3 linked regions of the Homo sapiens genome follow. The protein of the gene in region 3 purifies or fractionates together with the protein of the main gene of each other region. This does not show direct contact. Each region holds a gene or a part of one and is shown on either strand. Other genes may lie near its edges.

Region 1 (7,643 bases), on a different chromosome or scaffold from region 3:
CTCATTTTGCTTTTCCAGATTGACGATGCATTTCAAAACCCAAGAGTTTTTCACAGACTTTAACCCAGTACTGCCATTCCTGGGAATTTATCCAAAAAAAGATGATTTTAAAAAGAAAAAGTGGCCAGGCATGATGGCTCACACTTACAATCCCAGCACTTTGGGAAGCCGAGGCAGGTGGATCGCTTGAGCTCAGGAGTTCGAGACCAGCCTGGGCAACATGGTGAAACTCTGTCTCTACCAAAAATACAAAAAATTTGCTGGGTGCGATGGCAGGTGCCTGTAGTGCCAGCTACTCAGGAGGCTGAGATGGGGGGTTCACTTGATCCCAGGGATCACTTGAGCCTGGGAGGAAGAGGTTGCAGTGAGCAGAGACTGTGCCACTGCCGTCCAGCCTGGGTGATGGAGGGAGACCCTGTCTCAAAAGACAAAAAAAAAAAGAAAAGGGAAAAGATAATTTTTTTTAATAATAAAAACAACAACAAAAGTGGTCATTATGAATGCAAGGCAACAACCTGGAAACAAATGATCTGCCAAATGTCAGGCAGAATCAAAATATATGTTTATATTATAATGAAAAATATATAGAAGTTACACAGGCCAGGCTGAAAGGGTCTATGGAAACCTAAAAAGTTGACAATCGGGAGTGACACTGGTCAACTATTTGGTGATAGGCTGACAATTTGAGTGACTTCTTTATTTCTATTGCTGTTGTTAAATACAACAAATGTATACATAAATTTCAGAACTTAAGACAGTTACATGAGTTAAAATAACACCTAGGCTGGGCACAGTGGCTTACACCTGTAATTCCAGTACTTTGTGAGGCCAAGGTGGGAGAATTGCTTGCGCTCAGGAGTTTGAGACTAGTCAGGCAACATAGTGAGACCCTGTCTCTACATAAAATAAACAAAATTAGCTGGACATGGTGGCACAAGCCGGTCGTCTCAGCTACTTGGGAGGCTGAGGTGGGAGGATCACTGAACCCGGCAAGTGGAGGCCGCAGTGAGCCAAGATCACACCACTGAACTCCAGCCTAGGTGACACAGTGAGACCCTAACTCAAAATAAATAAATAAATAAAATAACACCTTGAGTTAGCAAAATACTGATAATTAGTGAAGACAAATGATGAGTACATAGGGGTCATTATTCATCATACTTTCTCTCTACTATATTATGAAATTTTCCATAATAATTTTTAAGTAACATCTTCACCAAACATTCTAAAGGGAAAAAACCCCACCTCACACAGGTTTAATCTGGACTTTCAATCTACTACCACAGGCCCAGATTTTTTAAAAGGAAAAAGCTGCTCCATCAGTAACTCTAAATTCCTATATTTAGAACCTTACATTGAAGCAATAAAATCTGCCTCAGAGGCAGTTCTTTTTACGGCATTTCCATTAACAATAATTTTCAAGTGGAATATGCCAGGGGATCCGAATCAGAAGGGAGCCCTCAAACACAAAAGCTTAATGCTTTTCCATCAGACCATGCAGCCTCTCTGCAAAGGGTCACATAAAGAAATTAGATAGAGCTGACACAATTCTTGCTGAGTTGTCAATTGAGTTGAAGAGTAAAAAGGGGGCAGAGCCCAGAGAAGATGAAAGGAAAAGGGGACCAAGCAGTGTGCAGTCCCAATGGCGAGGAAAGGTGCCACACCTAGTAATCCTGTATCATTGCTCCGGAGGTTCCAAAGGGCTTTCACTGCTCGTCTGGCCACCCACTCAAATGTGGAGTCCCCCAGGAGTCGACTCAGAATCCCAAATTCCACCAGGAGGGAACCGGCTCCCGCTGTGCATGTCTCATTATTGGTGTCAGGAGGAACTCCTGTCTTTAGATTCACCTGGGGATGGGAACAGACAAAGACTGTGACAAAACTCAAGGAATCCACAGAGCTGAAAAGCCGGGTCTCAGAGACTACACTCAGCTAATAAACCAAGCTTACCACGGTGAGAGTCTGCCCTCTGCCTTCCAAGATACATCTGAGGTGAATACGGGAATTAAATTTAAAAGACACAAACAAGACAATAAGAACAGCAGAGCCTTGCTTTATTAATAAGAGCAAGTCTTCAGGGAATGGCTATAACACTTCACTAAACCTTCTCTTTCCAGCAGGTTTTCTTCATGGTAACACAGGCACCAGGCTTTAGGGTTAGAGACAAAGGCAAACTATAGAATTTCTTCTAAATTTTAAATGAACCACTATGAACTCACTCCTGCTCAGCACCTAAACAAACCTCAAACTGGGCAAGAAAGGAGGCACTACCAGAATATGACAGCCAGTTTCATCATGAAGGCTCTGTGCTCTGGCAGTTCTCAGTCAGTTACCTAAAAGGCTGACTCAATTCCCAGAGGAGTTCTGGGCTTGGCAAATCAGATGTCACAAATATATAATCTAATTCCAGATCCTGGCATTTAAATCAGCAGCTAACTTGCTGGTCTGTGCAGCCTTTATTTGAAAGATCCACGTGAAGCATTGAAAAGAACACTCACTGAGCTCCCGCAATACCCATGTGAGGATCTCTGGGAAAACAGACCCAAGTCAGAGATGAAGACAAACTCCCCACACTGCTTTGTAGCAGAGAATATAAATCACACATGTAAATGGACTTAAGAATACTGAACTTCACAGAACATCTACTCTTTAAGGGGAAGGAATAAGTCAGATATATCACTGTTTGCCTTTCATACAGTGGATGTTCAGTAAATGCTGAATGAATTTTAAAATATTTACATCATATTTAAGGCCAAATTCTTCTAAGGACACTGCTTTTCTCATCTACCTCCATCCCATTCCTTCTCCCAAATAAATTAGTAAGCAAAGAATTTTAATTCAGGAAGATAGTGAATTGTCAAACACAAAGGGTCAAACCAGTCTACCCACCCGAGGATATGGAATCCCTGTCTTGGTGTTTTCAAAAGCAGGGAGGAGCCGCACCGCCAGGTCATGGGCCATGTATAACAACTCATTATCATAGTCCTTAATTGTCATGTCACCAAAGGGCTGCTTGGAGTCAGTTATTATTCTGTGAGCAGAAAGGAGGCTTCCCAGGACCCTAATGACAGGAAGAACAAAAAGATAATACAATCGTGTTGCTTGTAAATGCACATAATCCAATTCAGAAAGATAGAAGTATGTTCATATCCACATAGACTCAGAACTGCCTGACGTCAGAGAGACCTGACTTAATGGACTCTTGAATTCCTTTCTAGCTCTAAGAATACACGATTGATTTTTGTTAACCATATTACTAAAAGAGAGAAAGGGAATCATTTATTCGAGACTACCAAAAACAATGCTATTTAAAATAGTAACAATTTTGGTAATCTAAATCTTAGGGCATTAAGAAAAGGGAGTTGGCTGGGTGCGGTGGCTCACGCCTGTAGTCCCAGCACTTTGCCAAGAGAGATGCATCTCTTGAGGCCAGGAGTTCAAGACTAGCCTGGGCAACAAGGCAAGACCCTGTCTCTATTAAAAATAAAAAAAATTAGCCGCATGTAGTGGCACACACCAGTAGTCCTAGTAGCTACTTGGGAGGCTGAGGCAGGACGATCTCTTGAACCTAGAAATTGAAGACTGCTACAATCATGCCACTACACTTTAGCCTGTGTAACAGAGCAGGACCCTGTCTCTTAAAAAAAAAAATAAGAGTGTACTAACTGTTCTCAGAATAAATATTACCTATTAGTATTATTAAATTACTCCTGATTTATTTCACTTGGGGAAAACACTCATAAAAAAACAGAAGCTGGGCATGGTGACATTTGCCTGTAGTCCCAGCTATTTGGGAGGCTGAGGTGGGAGGATCGCTTGAGCCCAGGAGTTCAAGGCTGCAGTGAGCCGTGATAGCACCACTGCACTTCAGCCTGGGCAACAGAGCAAGACCCTGCTCTAAAATGAAAAAAAAAATTTAATTTAATTCAAATTAAAAAAAAAAAAACAGAGAAAGGTAAGACAACAAATACTAAGTAATTTTTGTTGTTTTGGCTGCCAAGCAACTTCCCTAACACCGTAACATCTGGTAAAGAGGCAAGGTGAAGAGGAGGAGGAAAAAATGACCTACTAAGAGGCAGCAGGCTACCAGCTTATACCTAAGTCCTTGTAGACCCATAAAGTCCCATTCTAAAGATCTGAAGTAGGCTGTGATATATGTCAGAACAAAGGTTTTCACCAATTTAATTTTAAATAAGTATTACATCTGTGAACTGGAATGTTATGCAGTTGATACAATTTTCAAAAGATGTAAACAGGAAAATAACCACAATGTATCAAAAAAAGCAATATACAATATACTAGGTATACAGCATGATCCCAATCCACTAAACAAATAGAGAAAAAGAGAGAGACAGAGAGAGAAATAGAAGTGAGAGATATACCTAACAAAGAAATATACTAAAATGGTAAGCAGTGATTTTCTGTGGGTGGTAAGATGGGAAACTCTCATTTCCTTCAGAAATATGTAGGGGTTGTCCTAGGACACGGTGAAAGAAGAAAATGAAATCAGACTATAAAGGGAAACCATGAAATTCTGTACTAGACAGACACCTATTTTACACCCCCGTTAAAACATAAATGTACCCAGGCATGGTGGCTCATGCCTGTTATCCCAGCACTTTGGGAGGCCAAGGCAGGCGGATCACTTGAGGTCAGGAGTTCGAGACCAGCCTGGCCAACATGGTGAAATCTCATCTCTACTGAAAATACAAAACTTAGGTGTGGTGGTGAGTGCCTGTAATCCCAGCTACTCTGGAGGCTGAGATATGAGAATGCCTTGAACCTGGGAGGTGGAGATTGCAGTGAGCCAAGATTGCACCACTGCCCTCCAGCCTAGGTGGCAGAGACTCCATTTCAAAAAAAAAAAAAAAAAGAGTTTAATCTATAAAAACAAAACAAAATACAAACGTGTCTTTCCCTTCAGTCCGGAATGTGATTACTTTGAAATAATTGTTCCAGTTTTGACAGATATGAACATGAAAAATGCACACTGCACCCATAAAGCCCATATGGACTCCCTGCCTGGATCATGTGGCAAAAAGACCCTCAAAGGTATTTTTTTCTTTAAACACATAAAAAGAAGTCTCCAATTCATTTTATGAATATTCATTATTTTACCTTATCGTGGCCTCAAAGACTTGGACGGTGGAATCTTTGTCAAATGAAACTGTGTTGATCACTAACTTGACGGCTTTCTGGAACTCGGATGAATTTCCCATTATCTTTAAAAAGAGGAACACAGGTCATTACAGCAACTTGAAATGAAACTGAGGCTGTATCATCACAGCAGCCCAGTCACGTCACCTAAATGTCTGTATGTGGTTTTGCTACCATAGGAGTAGAAACACAAGAGACAGAAAAGCAGTTATTTCTTAGCATATATTCCCAGCACATGGCTGGCCCATTTCCTCCAACTCAAGAGTCCTGTCTCCAAAGGACAAAACTGTGAAAATAATTCCTTGTAAAATCATTGGCACTCCTCATCTTCCCAACTCCACTCTCCAGCAAACTTCACTATGATCTTATTTAACATGCCAGGCATTGTGGTTTCTAAAACTTCTGGCAGGTATACAAATAAATCAGAAAACTGAAGAAACAAAAATATGTCTTTCTCTCTGCTCCTCAAATAAATCAGCAGCTTGGGTGCTTGGCTCCCAGGAGACCAAAACATGTGGAAAACTGAATGAACTTGTTGATTGTTATCCAGATGCCTAAACACTTTGAGAAATAGTGGTAATATCTTTTGGAGCACAGGATAAAACCAGTGACTGATTTAAAAGAAACAAAACATATGAATAATCAGCTCTATGTCCTTTTTAAAAAGTGATCTAGAATTATGATTCCTATTTTGGGTATGTAGATACGACGTCACACTAAGCCACTCTCTCCTATGTGAAGCACAGTTGGGCATCAAACTTTATAGATTAACCTGAATCAAAATTATTTCATTCCACTCTAAATTTTATGACAACCCTGAGACTATAATGACATCATAAGGACATACTGTGATAGAAAAATAAATTTCTGGGACCCCAAAATCACTAAGCCAAAGGGAAAAGTCAAGCTAGGAACTGCATCAGGCAAACCTGCCTCCCATTTTATTCCTAAATAAGATAGCTACAAAGATTCAAAAAAAAAAAAAAAAAAAAAAGCTATATACGTCCCTTACAATTTACCTACAAGGAAATTCCTTGTGGGCCTCAAGATCTTCCCCTCAAAACAATTCTGCTGAATTTCACCCAGGCAATGTAAATTGACAGTTTATCTTCACAGGTACAAACAAAGGACAGAACTCAGTCATCCCTCTGCTCACCTAAGAAAAATGCATATCTGATTGCTTCCTCTGCCCTACTGTTTATGTAAAACTGCAGATTCACTAAGCCAGACAAAGGCATAAGTGACTATTCCTCTACCTTTGTCACAGGTAAACTGTATATTCCGTGAAAGGCTAATCAGAGAGTCAACCGGCTGGACACGGTGGCTCAGGTCTGTAAGCCCATACTTAGGGAGGCCAAAGCGAGCGGATCACTTCAGGCCAAGAGTTCAAAACCAGCCTGGCCAACATGGCAAAACCTTGTCTCTACTAAAAATACAAAAAATTAGCCAGGCGTGGTGGCGCATGCCTGTAATCCCAGCTACTCGGGAGGCTGAGGCACAAGAACTGCTTGAACCCCTGGGAAGGTGGAGGGTGCAGTGAGCCGAGATCTCACCACTGCACTCCAGCCTGGGCAACACAGCAAGACTCTGTCTCAAAAAAAAAAGACAAAAAAAATGTAACCATTTGTCTTTTATCTGCCTGTGACTTGGAAGTGCCCCCTCACCCCACCCCCAGCACTTCAAGTTGTCTCACTTTTCTGGACTGAACCAATGTACATCTTACACATACTGATTGATGTCTCATGTCTCCCTACAATGTATAAAACCAAGCTGTGCCTAACTACATTTTTTCCACCTCATCGTTATTTTGCTGTAACCTACAGAGTAAGTACAGACATTTCTAGCTTTCAGTTCTTTCTTTTTAGAAGATGATGCAATAATGCTGCAAGTTGCATCCAATGGTCAGGGGACTGCTATCTTCACAGTGTTTCCCTAGCACATCTGTTAAAGCCTGTTTAAATGTTAGCAAAAGAAAAGGAAAACTTCAACAGAAGTAACACCTGAAAAATAAGCCTGAAGCACTAAAGGCCGGATATTCTACAATGAAAACCACAGAGATGAGTCTGTTTCCTTACAGATGTTTACCAGCAACAATATCTGGTGAAGCTGCAGGTGCTGACAGGAGCTCAAATCAAGTGAGGAAGGTGAAGGAAGTCAACAGCTCTTACTTATTGTAGTTTATCATTATGGTCAGATAGCTATAGAATCCTGAGTGACTATGTTCTGAAATCACACTAATGTTTGAAAATGGCTGAATGGGACAGAGGAGCTAAATGGGTTTGTTTGTTTGACTGTAGGACTTCTCAGAGTCTTTAAAATGCTGATGGGCACTGTGGCTCTCTAATAGTGGGACCAGACATACGGAATTTCTCAAGTTCATTTAGAAACAGAACTCTTCTTTCAGGGAGTAAGTATCTTTGGAATCTGTGTTGGGAAATGCTTCATTAGTCAGAATTCATTTTTTGAACAAACATTTGCACTGCTAC
Region 2 (8,001 bases), on a different chromosome or scaffold from region 3:
GAAGCTCAGACTCCCCACTGGGTACCACTCCTCACCCTCACCCTAGCGTAGGCACTAATGTATCAATAGCAGGAAGGAAACCAACATTTACTGAGGGTCTGTTAAGCACCTGGTAACTGTACGGAGTCCTCTGCATATGTGATCCCAATTAATGATCCCAATAACGTTGCACAGCAGGTGCTTTCAGCCCATATTACGAGGAGAAAAATCAAGCCTCAGTTAGGTGACTTGACCAAGGTCACCCAGCTGGTGAGTGGCAACGCAGGAAAAGAGCCCAGGTTTGCCTGACTCCAAAGCCTGTGTTCTTCCAACAATGCCACTGTGCTCCTTAGAAGGGCCAGTAATAGAATAATGGAAAGAGAGAAGAGGAGAAAGGAGAATGAGCCAGAAACAGAGCTAGGAAAATGAGGCAGGAAAACATGAGGTCAGAGAGAAACAGAAGGGATCCCCAACTTTTTTTTTTTTATTTTTTTGAGAGGTAGTCTCACCCTGTCACCCAAGCTGGACAGCAGTGGCACAATCTCGGCTCACTGCAACCTCCACCTCCCAGGTTCAAGTGATTCCCGTACCTCAGCCCCCGAGTAGGTGGGATTACAGGTGCGCACCACCAAGCCCGACTAATTTTTGTATTGTTAGTAGAGACACAGTTTCACCATGTTGGCCAGGCTGGTCTCGAACTCCTGACCTCAAGTGATCCACCCGCCTCGGCCTCCCAAAGTGCTGGGATTACAGGCGTGAGCCACTGCGCCCGGCCTCCAACTTTTTTAATGACATGATCAAGGACAGCCTTGGAACAATCCCACCTTGAACTTCATAGGGATTCTAGCTTAGGGGTAGGAGAACAATACAGAAACTCACGTTGATGACAGAGTCCTTGAATTTGATATGCAGCCGGTAGTTAGAGATGGCAATGAGGGCATCGGCTGCCCGGCCCAGGAACTCTACTCCCTCACCCTGCAGCACTGTGAAGGGGACCTGTCAAGGGGCAGAGAAACCTTCAGTCCAGAAGTGAGTGACCACCTTATCCTCTTCTACAGCCCCTGATCTGTGGGATCCCCTCTGGAAAAGGTGGGCCAAGGCAAGAGAGGAGAGTTCTCTCCACGGTAACAGCACCAGGCAACAGCTGTACAGGAAAGCTGCCTTTCCTTCCCTGCGGCCAAAGGCTCCAGGATGCGCAGACAAACCCTCCTCCTCCAGAGACCAGGGAACATGAAGCCAGAGCTCTGGTACCAGATGCCCTTGAGGATTTTTGGGAGAAGGGAGGGTGTTTTTTAACTGGGCAGGGAGCCCCATCTATCCTGGCCCCCAACTCCTCCTTACCTGAAGATTCTCTTCCTCCTTCACTAGTTCCTTGGGGGGGAACAGATCCTTGGCTTGGATGTACTCCAGGCTGGGGGGCCCCTCCTCACCCTGTAGGAAGGCCACAGTCCTAAGTCACCAAGCTCCACTTAGCCCATCAGGCTCATTCTGCTCCTCTCCCCACCAAGAAATCCACAGATACCCACACACACACACCTCTAAAGGTTCTGGTCACCAGAGAAGGGAAAAGAGATCTGACTTGGTTGGAGACAGGGAAGGGTGAAATGGAGAGCATATCAGCCTATTAAGCCTAAGGAAAGAGTGAGGCCCCAGGAGGAATTGGGAATCTGCACTCTTCAAAGAGGGACTCTCCTATAGAACCAACATTTCAAAAATGGAGGAGAGAAAACTAAGGAAAAGAAAGACTCTTTCCCTTAGACCCGCATAAGGGTAAGGCAGGAGTGGGGATGGGAAAGTGCTGTCCTGAGGAAAAGGAGCCAGGTATGGCAGCTGGTTTCAGAGAGAAGGGAAATCAGGCGCCTACAAGCCACTGAAGCTTCAATCTGGTGGGTGAAGGAGACAAAGAGGAGTGGGTGGGGGGATTCAGTCCCACGCCTCTAGAGGGCCTTCACCGACGCTTTCAAAAGGAAGACGTGTTTGAGAGCTGGGCTTATCTTCTTGTTAGACCCACATTGCTGACAAGCCCCCATTACCTGCCAAGTAACCTGCTCTGCCTGCTAATCAGAGGGGAATTCCTGAGGAATACCCACAGCAAGCAAAAGGAACTCCCCTCCCAACCACCAGGGAGGGGACCCGGGGGGATCCACGCGCCTGGGAGGAGCCAGGAGACCCAAGGACAGCCAGGGGAGAGAGAGAGAGGAGGCCCGGCAGACACCCACGGGGAAGGTGGGGGGACAGCTGAGAGGACAGATGGGGGAAGCTGGGAAGGAGCATCAGCCAGAGCGGGAGGAGGGGAGGACCGGGAATGATGCAGAGGTACGGAACCCTGCAGAGGCAGGGAAGATGGAGAAGAGAGGCTGTCTGGGGGACAGTCAAGGAGAAAAGGCTGGCATGCCAGGTGAGGGATGGAATGGTGGAAGAGGGAAGGGACTGGAGCCCCAAGCCAGCTCAAAGACATCCCGTGCTCCCCGACCAACCTCCTAACATCCCATTCAGCCTACTAGCCACATCCCACATCCCCAAGCAAGGATTCAGCGGGTGGGACCAAGAGGGAGAGGCGGAGGTAAAGGGATGTACCCCTGCAGGGCGGGGCCTAGAGATCTGCAGTCAAGGGCAGTGGCTGCGGGGCCAGGATGGACCACAGAATTTCCATTCCTGGCCTTCGACCATCTCCGGCACCCAAAGATTGAAGCAAGTCCAAGAAATAAAAGGGTTAACCCACCTTCCCTGCCCCCCAAACGTTCGGGGCCGGGCCAGGGGCCTCGGGAAGGGGGATGGGCTGAAATCGAGGGCTGACCCTGGGCGGGGCTGCGGGTGCCTCCTAGGCCCCCAAAGGCAGGGTGGGCACTTACGAAGCAGCTAAGCATGGAGCAGGAGACGCGGGCGGTCAGGCTCATGGTCGCGGGCGGTCTGGGCCAGCGCACATGTCCCCGGAGCCGCTGCGCTGCCCGCCAGCCCCGGGCGCCCGCCGCATCCCGGCTGCGGGGCTCGCCAGGTGCAGCCGCGGCGGCCAAGAGGCTAGGGCGCTGGTGGCCGGGCCTCCGCGCGGCTCCCGCGCGCCTCTCCCCTCCTCTCCACAATGGAGCGGGCCCAGCTCCGCCCTCCCGCACGAGTGCAGAAGGGAGGGGAGCCAGGCGAGGGGAGAGCCCGGGACCGCGGCGGGAAGGCGGAGGTAGAGGCGGGGCGGCTCCGCGGGCCCCGCCCACAAGCCCAGCCTCCTCCCTCCCCGCGGACCCTGGGCCTCGTAGGAGGGCGTACCCTACTCCAGGGACCTTTAGGAGCTTTCAGGAATCTGGGCTACGGGACCGCCCACATCTTCTCATTTCCCTTCTTCTAAGGTGAGCCACCCCATGCCCTCTTACAAACCCATCCCCGCGCCCCCTCCCCTAAGTTCCCCCGACGCCTGCTCTGGATCCCAAGGTGGAGCTCACCTACCCGCACCCCATTTGCTTCCTCCTTTCCCTCCAAAACCACTACCCACCATGCCCCTGCCCATCAGGGTCCTTCAATCCCGTGACTTCGTTAAACCTTTCTTTCCCCTTAGAATGGTGCCAGGTTAGTCATTCCACGCTCCTGGAAAGGGAAATGAGCTTTTTATTCCAACGCCCCTACCCAACCCTACTCCTTCAGCTCCATCTCTCCCTTGTTTCACATTCTGATCTCTGGGTAAGAAAGCCCTTCTTGGAGGAGAAAGGATTTCTTAGTCTGGGAAAGTGAAGAGCTAGAAGTATCGACCACAGAAGCTATACAAAAAAACGAAACTTGAAACCCAGGAGCAGCGGAGTAGAGAGAGTTGGGTAGAGGGCCAAGGAATAAGGACCAGGAATAAGGGGCTCAAAATGTCACCAAGAGTCACAGAGGGAGGTGGCTGGAACCCCAAACTTCCTGCACCTTGTAACTTTCAGACACCAGGGCTTTTGTCTTGTTTGGGGGAGAAGGGAGTAATAAAAGAAAACCTGACATTTTATTAAGCATCTACAATGAGCCAGGCAGTTTCTAACATTATCTCAGTAAAACTTTTCAAGCCCCAAGAAGTAAACCTTATCCTGTCTTACTCGTGAGACTCAAGCTTAGAGAGAAAGTATGTAATTTAACTAAGTGGTGGTGCTAGGATTTGAAATTAGATGAAGCTGACTGTGAAGCCCATGCTCTTTTCAGGGTAGCCCAGAAGAGAAAAAGAGGAGCTATCTGTTGGTGGGGGCCAAAACCAGCAGGCTTTCTGAGAAGAGACTGAACCAATAGTGCACACACCAAATCCACATGTCTATGGAAGGAAGGGAGGGAAGGAGGAAATCCTCTCATCTACTGAATTCTTTAACCTGCCCCTAAGCACAAGGGACACCTAAAAGACACCGAAGAGATACTACCAGGTTAAGGGCCTGGTCTGGGCCAGGGCCTACAGCTCTCTAGGCCTTTCCCATCTCACTGCCTCCTCCTAGCTCTTAGGAGTTAAGGGCTTCCCTGGACTTGGGGTGAGAGAAGGGCTGTTACAGTTAATGGAAAATTAATAGGATCATTGTAAACCACCTCTGGTGATATTCTGGGCACCCTGAAGATGCTATCCTGATAGATATTCAATCAGCTGTCACCTGTAGTGGCTTAACAGCAGCACCCTGGAACTAGAGAAGCCCCACAGTTTTGGTGGAGTCACTCCTGATATAGCATCCACAATATTCAAAGGACCCACCAGAAGTCCAAAGATCTTGAGATAAAGAAGGCCCAGCTTTTCAGACCAGAACACAGAGATTCTACCGGGGACCCAAGAAAAGCAAGAAGAGGGCTGTTATGAAGGGTTAATAGAACCAGTGGTGGGTAGGGAGTAGGAGGAAAGTGTGGGGCCTAGCACATGCAGAAAATGATTTCTAGAAGCTTCCAGTCCCAGTGCTGTATACTGGCTGATGTTTTGCAATCTAAAGAAACCCTAATTTATCTCCAGGGCAGATGAACATGTTTAGGAGCTGAACAGGGTAGCCTGGAGCTCAAGGTCTAGGACAGGTGGGGCAGCTTCACAGAGAAAGACACATGGATTACAGAAAACACAATGGCCTGAGGAAAGACAGGGTACTCACCATTCTACCGTGGCAAGGGTACTGGCTGCCTGCTTCTCACTGTAAGGAGACAGAGGAACATAAAAGTAAAGGACCCCATTAACATTACCATAGAATCAACAAATGACACACATCTACCCCTGACCTTCTCTACAACTCTTATTCTTCTCCCTCACAGAGACTCCAGTCTCTCCACAAGTCACCATGCCAGAGAGAGGCAATGGGAGCTACATGAGGAGAAAGCAACAAGTGATCCTGCAGGGCATGAAGTCAGCCACGAAGTTCTGAAACAGGAATGAGTGTCATCCAAGATTATTCAGCAGAATTCAGGAGTCCTGATTTCCAGACGCAGAGGGAGAACACTTCTTTCTCAGGGAGCAGAACTGCCAACTATGAAGAGACACAGGCTGCCCAACTGGGGCTCATTTTAGGCCCTGACTCTTGGGGTGAAGTGGCAGTAGTTGAAGGAGCATGAATCCACAGGAATGTTTTGCCAGTCTCTGAGTCTGGGAGTAGTACCCACCTGACCTGTTTACTGGGGGCAGAGTCCAGAGTGGGACAAGAGGGAGGGGACCACAACCTGTGATCAGAGGGCAGCAGGGCTGCACAGGTCCTCCTGAGTGTATTTGACACCAAGTGGGGTGGAGGTTATGGAGAGGAGGCCACACAACAGGGACAGAATCAGGCCAATCCAGGCCTTGGAGTCAGCATCTGTCCAATGAGCCCAAGTAACAGGGATTTCAGGATAGGGCCTCCTAGGCTCACTTAGGGAGCCAGGCCTAGGTTTCACTGACACTTTCCTTCATGCCTGCTTTCCTCAGGCAGTGCAGCAGAGCCCTGCGGGAGGCTGCGGGGATAAAAGCCTCCATCTGTGGTACTGCCCACCTCCCTGTTCACAGTATCCTCTTCCCTAGGCCATTCTCCCTCATGGGGGAACCGGCAAGAGGCAAGCCAGAGGTGCTGCCTCACCGCCCACTGGCAGCAGCCCCAGGGAAGGAAGGGAGGGAAGGAGGGACAAGGATCAGGCCTGGGAGGCCCAGGGTTTTCAGACCTAGGGGATCTGGTCCCAGGGGGCGGGCCAGGTTGGCAGGGGAGCCCAGGTGCCCAGGTTCTAGGGGCGGAGCCTAAAGACTGGGAGGCGGAGCCCCAAATGACAGAAGGCGGGACTCAGGAAAGCCGGTGGGGGCCAGGGCGGAGCCGGGCAAGACGCGGTCGTTGCGGTTCCCAGGCTTGCAGTGCAGGGGGCACGGTGACTCACCCAGGCGGCGTCCGCCCGACCCTCTGAGGCCGCGCTCTTGCCACTTCCGTCTCCCGCAGCTGCTGAGGCCGCGCAGTCCCGACCCCACCACAGTGCCCCTCTCCTGAACCAATCATATCTCTAGCCTGTACCCGCCCTGGCCAATGGCCACGCCAAGTCCCGCCCTGCCCCCATCACGCAGCCACCGCCCTCACTCTCGACCCCACTCATTGGTCGAGTCGGGCAAACGCCCTCCCAGCCTTTAGCCAATCGGATGCCTAAAGACGAGACTATACCTGGAGGAAGGAGGCGCGGCGCCGGAGGGGAGACGCGACCAATGGGAAATCACAGCGCGTCCTTGCGGCAGCCAATAGGAGAGCAGTAAAGAGGGGGCTGCTGGCCACTGCTCTGGGGACCGGAAGTGGAGGCGGCTCGTCGCCTACTGGTAGCGCAATTAGAGGCGGGCATTGTAGGTTACATGCCTAAAGCCACTTCCGGTGATGGCCCCGCCCAGGAGGTACTTCTGAAACAGGTCCCCAGTGGCACCTCAGTTTATCCATTCCCGTTTTGGTTTCGCAGCTGTCATCCGGTCCCAACGCCAGAATAGGAGAAAAACCTGCAGGCTAAGAGAGAAGGGAGGGCTGGGCCTGAGGTTCAGTCTTGGTCATCTCCGACTGGCGGCGCTAGGATTTCCCCCTTCCTGTGTCTTGATGGGTTCCTCCAACACTCACTTTGTATCGATAAACGACCCTGCAGTTCTTCACGACCTGCATTGCGCTGGCAGTCCTGAGTGAAGAACTCTCCTCTCATCCCAGAGATGGGAAACCTGGATCTGAGACTGCCAGCTAGCTGCGGCCTCCTAGTCTGTAAAGCGAAGGGAGACCAGGACGCTCCCAAGGACCCGGCTTATCGCCCCTCCCTTTCCTTCCCGGGGACCCAGAACAGACCACAAGACGGAGGGTGGCCGCTGGAGGTCGCCGTGGCCCCGCGATACCACCAACCGACAGAAATGGAGAACAGTTGATTCAGATTCAGCTGATATTCTCAGGTCTGGAGCGGGCCTGAGCGCTTTAATTAGCCCGGGGCTAATGTCCTCACCCATCTTTGTTTATAGAACGTTGAAACTCCAGTACTGTTGGTAAGTTCCAGGAAGACAGGAACTTTGCACTACTTGAACTCCAGGGTCTAGAACAGCCTGCAATCTAGCAGATGCTGTAAATTTTTTAATTAAATACTGAACTCCTGTAGGACGGTGATTGTGTTTTTATTCATTCCCAGCACTTACTATAGTGTTTGGTGATTACAATGGCTGCAGCATTTGTTCAAAGCTCTATCACAGGCTTTCTACAGTGTAGAGCTTAACCTGCCTATCCCTTTTCCCAGATCAGGGGAAACAGAAAGTCAGGAGGTTGCACGCAGTTAATACCTTGTGTTTTCCCAAGGGCAGGTATCAAATACAAAACTGCGTCCGCCGCAGCTGGAATACGCACAGGCATCAAAATGGGGCCTTTTGGGCCGGGCGCGGTGGCTCATGCCTGTAATCCCAGCACCTTGGGGGGCCGAGGCGGGCGGATCTCAAGGTCAGGAGATCGAGGTCATCCTGGCTAACACGGTGAAACCCCGTCTCTACTAAAAATACAAAAAATTAGTCGGGCGTGGTGGCGGGCGCCTGTAGTCCCAGCTACGGAGTCTTGTAGTCCCAGCTACGGAGCTTGCAGTGAGCCGAGATAGCGCCGT
Region 3 (7,643 bases):
AATAGCTGGACATGGTGGCACATGCCCGCAGTCTCAGCTAGTCGGGAGACTGAGGCAGCAGGATTGCTTGAGCCCAGGAGTTCAAGGCTGTGATGAGCTATGATCCTGCTGCTGCACTCTCCAGGTGGGGTGACAAACCAACCAAGGAACAAAAAATAACTTTATTGGTAAAAAATGCTAACAGTCATTTCAGCCTTTCAGCAAGTCATGCATGTCGTGATGTTGATGGGTGCTGACTGATCAGGGTGGTGGTTGTGTAAGGTTGGGGTGGCTGTGGCAATTTCTTAAAATGAGATGACAATGAAGTTTGCCACACTGATTGATGTCTCCTTTCCTGAAAGATTTTCTCTGAAGCGTGAAATGCTGTTTGATGGCATCTGACCCACAGTAGAACTTCTTTCAAAATTGGAGTCAAAACTGGCCTCAAACCCTGCTGCTGTTTTATCAACCAAGTTTATGTAATATTCTAAATCCTTTGTTGTCATATCAACATTGTTTACAGGATCTTCACCAGGAGTAGGTTCCATCTCAGGAAATCACTTTCTCTGCTCATCCATAAGGAACAACTCCTCACCGCCCCATGGTGAGATTATTATAATGAGATAATTATATTATAATGAGATCATTATAATGAGATTGCAGCAATTCAGTCACATAATCAGGCTCCACTTCTAATTCCAGTTCTCTTGCTATTTCTATCACATCTACAGTTACATCCTCCATTGAAGCCTTGAACACCTCAAAGTCATCCATGAAGGTTGGAATGAACTTCTTCCCAACTCCTGTAACACTGATATTTTGACCTCCTTCCATGAATCACAGATGTTCTTAATGACACTAGAATGGTGACTCCTTTCCAGAAGGTTTCCAATTTACTTTGCCTGGATCCATCAGAGGAATCACTACCTATGGCAGGTAGAGCCTTATGAAATGTATTTCTTAGATAATATGACTTGAAGTTGAAATTACTCCTTGATTTACGGGCTGCAGAATGGATATGGTGTTAGCAGGCATGAAAAAAAAGTCCCAGATAGCATCTTCTTCCAATGGAAGGCTGTCTCATTAACATTGAGAATTTGTTGTTTAGTATAGCCACCTTCATCAATGATCTTAGCTAGATCTTCTGGAAAACTTGCTGCAGCTTCTATGTCGGGACTTGCTGCTTCATCTTGTATTTTGATGTTATGGAGATGGCTGTTTTCTTTAAACCTCATGAACCAACCTTTTCTAGCTTCAAACTTTTTTCTGCAGCTTCTTCATCTCTCTAAGCCTCCATAAAATTGAAAAGAATTAGGGTCTTTCTCTGGTTAGGCTTTCGCTAAGGGGATGTTGTAGATAATTTGATCTACCCAGACCACTAAGACATTCTCTATGTTAGCAGTATGGCTGTTTTGTGTTATCATTAGTGTGTTCACTGGAGTAGCACGTTTACTTTCCATGAAGAACTTTTCCTTTGCATTTATAATTTAACTAGCAAAAGAGGTCTACCTTTTAGCCTGTCTTGGGTTTTGATATGCCTCCCTCACTAAGCTTAATCATTTCTAGCTTCTGATTTAAAATGAGAGATGTGCATCTCTTCCACTTCAACACTTAAGAGGTCACTGTAGTTATTAATTGGCTTAATTTCAGTAATGTTGTATCTCAGGGAGTAGGGAGGCCCAAGAAGTGGGAGAGAAAAGGGAGAAGGAAGAGGGAGCAGTCAGAATAGACACAAAAATTAAGTATGCCATCCTATGGGCACACTCCAAAATGATTACAATAGTAACATCAAAGATCACTGACTGTAGATCACTGTAACAGACAGAATAATAATGAAAAAGTTTGGATACCAAAATGTGAGAAAGAGACATGAAATGAGCACATGCTATTGGAAACACGTTCAGCTGATAGACTCGCTTGATGTAGGGTTGCTAAAAACCTTCAATTTGTTAAGGAAAAAAAAGTGCATTATCTATGAAGTGCAATAAATCAAAGTGTAATAAAATGAGGTACACCTGTACTTTGTCTTCATCGAGCACTTCTCATATTTGCCAAGTTCCCACTGATTGCTGAGTAATAAGAATAAAGTTAAAATATTTTAAATACTGTATCATCACAGCTCAATGGGATGTTGTGCCTAACAGTGACCCAGAATAGAATTATTACATTTCAAAATGCAACTTTCCACTTCTAAACTATACAACTACAGCTACTGTCTGTTAATATACATACAACTCCAGTTAACAGCTTCTATTAGCAAAGTAAAATGTAATTACTTTGCCTGTAAGGTACAGATTAACTTTTTCCCCACAGGTCTATCTTATACTTGAAATGTAGGTGAACACTGAGTCCTGTACCTGTTTCTAATTAGCCTGAATTAGTTGCACGTATTTAGAATACCATGCATGTTTTAATGTCTTACTGTAATTTCTGAAATTTTTATTTTAAAATATTAACTAATTTTAACATGGAATCATATGGAAATCCTTTAACCAAAAGCAGATTACCCTCGCCTTTTTATCTTGAATGTGAAAGCACATTTTTACAATGTTAAATTTTTTAAGTGAGTAAAATTTGTAATTTGCATCAGGTCATTTTACAGATAAAATATAAACTGCACTATTGGCTAGATATCACATGTTCAAATCTATAATTTTAGCAAGTATGTATTAATGTTTTGAATTGTTAAAAAAAAGTCAATCTTTTCAAATAAAGTGATTTTCCAAGGTAATGTCTTATTTAGGGCTTATATTAAATTTAATCCCCGCAATCCTTACTGTATTATGTAGGTCTCTTATTTTATTCTTTCAGAGTTTACAGTAGCTGTCAGAATTGATTAAACCTACTTAACCTATGCTGCATATAATAGAAGAGCTTAGAAGGCATTTGCTTGTTGACTTTCTAGAGAGCCAGAAATGATAACATCTGCTTAGCAGAAAAATGCCTGGGAAAGCTTCACTAGAGGGTCCTTCTCTATCACAACAATGCTCCTGCTCATTCCTCTCATCAAGCAAGGTTAATTATTTATGAATTATCTCTGAAGTTTTGTGGCTGCAATTTATCTTGAACTACCATTTGGGGTTCTATATGAACTATTAACAGTTCTTAAGCTTTTCTGCATAGTGACACATCTGAAAAAGTGTGAACCCATATACAATATAACTATCAGTGAAGTCTCATTCTAGGTAGACTCATGGATTAGTAAGCTTGCAAGTTTTGTTCAGTTCCTCTATCTGTAATTCCGATGTTTTCTGAACCATTGGTACACAAAACACTTACTGATATATTAGGAGATGAGAGACAATAAAAACCACACAGGAACAGCTATAGGTTTATATAACTCACACGAGAGTTATGATTCTACCAGCTTGTGACATGAGCATTAATTCTATTAACAATCCAAATGAATCAAATTGTCTTATTTGCAGAACACAGGAAAGATGTATTTTCTATTCACTTAGAACATGTTCAAGTGTTCACCTAGAAGGCTTTTAACAAAGTAACACATTGAACAGCTATTTTGTATGTGAAGCTCACCAGCATGATGTAGAAAATAAGATTAAAATGCCACCCTTGGCCAGATGTGGTGGCTCATGCCTGTAATCCTGGCACTTTGGGAGGCCAACGTGGGTGGATCGCCTGAGGTCAGGAGTTCGAGATCAGCCTGGCCAACATGGTGAAATCCTGTCTCTACTAAAAATACAAATACAAAAATTAACTGGGTGTGGTAGCGGGCACCTGTAATCCCAGCTATTCAGAAGGCTGAGGCAGGAGAATCGCTTGAACCCAGGGGGCAGAGGTTGCAGTGAGCCAAGATCGTGCCACTGCACACTGGTCTGGGTGACAAAGCAAGACTCCGTCTCAAAAAAAAAAAAAAAAAAAAGCCACCCTTGCTTAGAAGGAACAAACTGTATAAAATCAAGTAGCTGTAATAAATTTTTAACGATAATATATGAAAAACATATAGATTTATATGTATTTTTTGCGACTGGTACGCTATTTTAGTTTTCTTTTTTTTTGTGGTGCCATCATGGCTCACTGCAATATCAGCCTCCCAGATTCACGCGATTCTTGTGCGTCAGCCTCCCAAGTAGCTGGGATTACAGGTGCGTGCCACCAGGCACACCTAATTTTTGTATTTTTAGTAGAGAGGGTTTTCCCCATGTTGGCCAGGCTGGTTTCTAACTCCTGATCTCAAGCGATCTGCCTGCCTTGGCCTCCCAAAGTGCTGGGATTATACAGGTGTGAGCCACCGCGCCTGGCTGTATTTTAGTTTTCTAAATTAAATACAATTGTGATAGAGCAATATAAAATTGAAATTTGATTTGAAGTTTAATTTATTGCTCTGAAATAGAAAAAATAAACCTATTATTACTGTACAAAGGATGAAAGTATAAGAATCTATTCTGGTATACAATTTTCTAAAATGCAATGGAAAATGCAGAACTGTATTTTTATGGCCATTTTCACACAAAGTTGCCAATCAAATTAAATCTACTTCCAAAATAACTATACCTTTATCCAAAACTCTAAAATCAAAAAGCTCTGAGAAGTTTTGCTGTAAGTTTGCAGCAAGCTCACTTGGCATCCAAACCTGATCTGAACTGATTTTTAAATTTCTTTTATTTAGTATATATACTTACACATTTTGCTACATAAATATTAATGTTTTTATTATGGTACACTTCCCCACATTCTGCTAGAAATATTTAAGATACAGTATATTACATTATTACTGTTCGAAACTCCAAAAGATTTCTAAATTTCAAACATATATATCCCCTAGAGTTTTAGATGAGATCGAACTTGTATTAGTTTTATAAAACCTTAAGCCCACAAACTTACCAAATTCTCTTCTTTCCAATGTTATGATTTCAGGATCATCATCATAAATACCTAATTTTAAAAGTATATAAAAATTATAAAATCAAAACTTCACCATATAAATTGCAACATAAAAATAGATTACTCGTTTTAATCATCAAAAAAATCAAACTACTATATTATATCTCAAACTTAGAGAATATGCAACATCCTAAGTGAAAAAAAAGTAAATAATACTATCAGTACATTTAGGGTGATCTAAAGATATTAGAATTCTGATATGGACTCTCATAGATGTGTATGCGGTAGTTCGTAATATTCACATAATTTTACCTCCATATAAAATTTATATTATGGTTTTAAAAATAATTACAGATTCAGGAAGGTGCAAAAATATAGACTCTTGTATACTTTTTACTCACCTTCCTCTAATGGTGACATGTTATGTAGCTATATAGCACAATATCGAAAACCAGGAAATTGAGAGTGGTACACTGTTAACTAGACTACAGACCTCATTTGATTTTCAGATTATATGGTTTTTAACACATGGTATCATGTTAGAATATCTTCTGCTAAAAAGCTTAGAGTATTTGCAGAGGCAGACACAAATATTTAGTAAATATACATTTTTTAGGCTTTGTGGGATGTATGGCTTCTATCACAACTTCTCAACTCTGCTCTTGAAGTGTGAAAGAAGTCACATATATTATGTAAACAAATTAAAGTAATTCCATTCCAATAAAACTTATTTATAAAAGCAAATGGCAAGCCAGATTTGGCCTATGAAATGCAGTCTGCTAACTCTTGATATAGACTATCAAGGTGTAGAGAATATACTTGAAAATACTATTTTGAAAAAAAATCATATTTACTAAAAGCAAATCCTCCAGATATAAATTTAAAATACTTCATTTAGTCTAATACAGAAGCATATTCAGTTCTTAGCCTGCATTTGAGGTTAATTAATGACTAGGAGAAACACTGGGTCTCTGAACACACCTTCCTCCCTTGATACCTGTGTGTTTACAATCTCTCTTCCTTAGTTCCTTTACTTTGTTTCCTCCTTCCACCTTATTTTTTCCTCCATGTTTAAGAAAAAAAACACCTTTCGTCCTTCTCATATGGAACCTTTATTGATAATGTTTCAAGGTATTGACCTTAATGTCAACCGAAGGCCAAAACACCTTAAAAATCAGTAAGGGTTCCATATGAGAAGGACGGCATTTCTATTGAAGAGATCATTACTAAACTTGAAGTTTCGCCTTTCTTGGACAATATGATGCTCTAAAATATATTGAAAGAAATTAATATTATTCAATACTAAAAAATACTGAAAGAAATATTTAGCTACCCCTAATGCAAACATATAGTCATACATCACTTACTAATGGGACACATTCTGAGAAATGTGTTGTTAGGGAATTTTGTTGTTGCAAAAACATCACAGAGTGTACTTACACAAACCTAGATAGTATAGCTTACTACACACCTAGTCTACAAATCTGTACAGCATGTTACTGCTGAATACCATAGGCAACTGTAACACAATGCTAAGTATCTTTGTATTTAAATATAGAAAAGGTACAGTAAAAATATGGTATTATAATTTCATGGGACCAATGTCCTACATACAATCCATTGTTAAGTGAAATGTCATTATGCAGTCCATGAATGCATATTTTTTATTAAATAGCAATCCTTATTTTAAAAGTATTTAACAAGATTTAACCAATACAACTTCATATCTGTACAGATCATCTCTGTATACCAACTGACATTCCTTTTAAATTTCACTCCCACAGCAAATTAAAAGGAGCTAATCAAAGTGACGCATCTTAAATATATAAGCTAAGTGGTGAAACAGAATTCACTTTTCTTTTACTCAGATAAAACACATTTCATAAGTAATATCGTATCACCTTACCAAAATCATAACGATAATAGTTCCAGCTTTCATACTGGCCACCTTGATTATCCTCAAGTCCCTTTTCTCCATATTTGTCATACTTTTTCCGTAGATCTTCATCTTTGAGTACTTCATATGCTCTATTTATTTTTAAAAAATCGCCATGTGCATTTGGGTTATTCTGTTAAAAAATATTAGATATAATACAATTATTTCAGATACACAATCCAAGTTTCTTCAAAACATATATGTAGGTTTAATTAATCTAGTAACTTCTGGGAGACCATATACCAACATAAGGAGGGGTAATACAACATGACATGAGTTACCATGGGTTGAAATGAAGTATTTTTTAAGAAACTATAATCTTCAAAAAAAAAAAAAAAAAAGTAAGAAAAGTAATGAAATAATTGACTCTTCAAAAGGTTGACAGACGTTATCAGACCATGAGTTATTCTTCCTAAAAAATGCAGCTGAAAATAATAAGCCTGTTGAAACTCTTAATTTCATAAATATTTTTTACTCCTATAACAATTATAAATCAATACATTTGTAGGTTATTTTTCTATTTGAGGTAAAATCAACTTAATTAAAAAAGGATGTGCCCCAATCTATCAGCTAATTACATAAAAGCCAGTATCAGAAAACACCCCAAAATCGATCCCAGTACTTTGGGAGACTGAGGAGGGTGGATCATTTGAGGTCAGGAGATCGAGACCAGCCTGGCCAACATGGTGAAGCCCCGTTTCTACTAAAAACACAAAAACTAGCTGGGCAGTAGTGACGCACGCCTGTAATCCCAGCTACTCAGGAGGGTGAGGCAGGGGAATTGCTTAAGCCTGTGATGCAGAAGTTGCAGGAAGCCGCTGGCGTCACTGCACTCCAGTCTGGGCAAGAGAGTGAGACCCTATCTCAAAAAAAAAAAAAAAAA

Evidence for each region. Proteins that work in one complex are often made in the same cells at the same time.
Region 1: the proteins of DNAJC10 (region 3) and EDEM1 purify together in Homo sapiens (affinity purification with western blotting; 2 studies listed by BioGRID, with this or other methods). This does not show direct contact.
Region 2: the proteins of DNAJC10 (region 3) and MTMR4 purify together in Homo sapiens (affinity purification with mass spectrometry; 4 studies listed by BioGRID and IntAct, with this or other methods). This does not show direct contact.

The regions. Positions count from the first base shown.
Region 1 is NC_000003.12:5,197,171-5,204,813, reverse strand, and holds part of EDEM1 (ER degradation-enhancing alpha-mannosidase-like protein 1), read right to left. Parts: intron 5,223-7,643; coding exon 5,119-5,222; intron 3,062-5,118; coding exon 2,890-3,061; intron 1,849-2,889; coding exon 1,665-1,848; intron 1-1,664. UniProt on the Homo sapiens protein: Extracts misfolded glycoproteins, but not glycoproteins undergoing productive folding, from the calnexin cycle.
Region 2 is NC_000017.11:58,511,532-58,519,532, forward strand, and holds the start of MTMR4 (phosphatidylinositol-3,5-bisphosphate 3-phosphatase MTMR4), read right to left. Parts: upstream 3,108-8,001; 5' UTR 2,877-3,107; coding exon 2,832-2,876; intron 1,411-2,831; coding exon 1,321-1,410; intron 976-1,320; coding exon 859-975; intron 1-858. UniProt on the Homo sapiens protein: Lipid phosphatase that specifically dephosphorylates the D-3 position of phosphatidylinositol 3-phosphate and phosphatidylinositol 3,5-bisphosphate, generating phosphatidylinositol and phosphatidylinositol 5-phosphate.
Region 3 is NC_000002.12:182,719,257-182,726,899, reverse strand, and holds part of DNAJC10 (dnaJ homolog subfamily C member 10 isoform 1 precursor), read right to left. Parts: intron 6,894-7,643; coding exon 6,731-6,893; intron 4,876-6,730; coding exon 4,825-4,875; intron 1-4,824. UniProt on the Homo sapiens protein: Endoplasmic reticulum disulfide reductase involved both in the correct folding of proteins and degradation of misfolded proteins.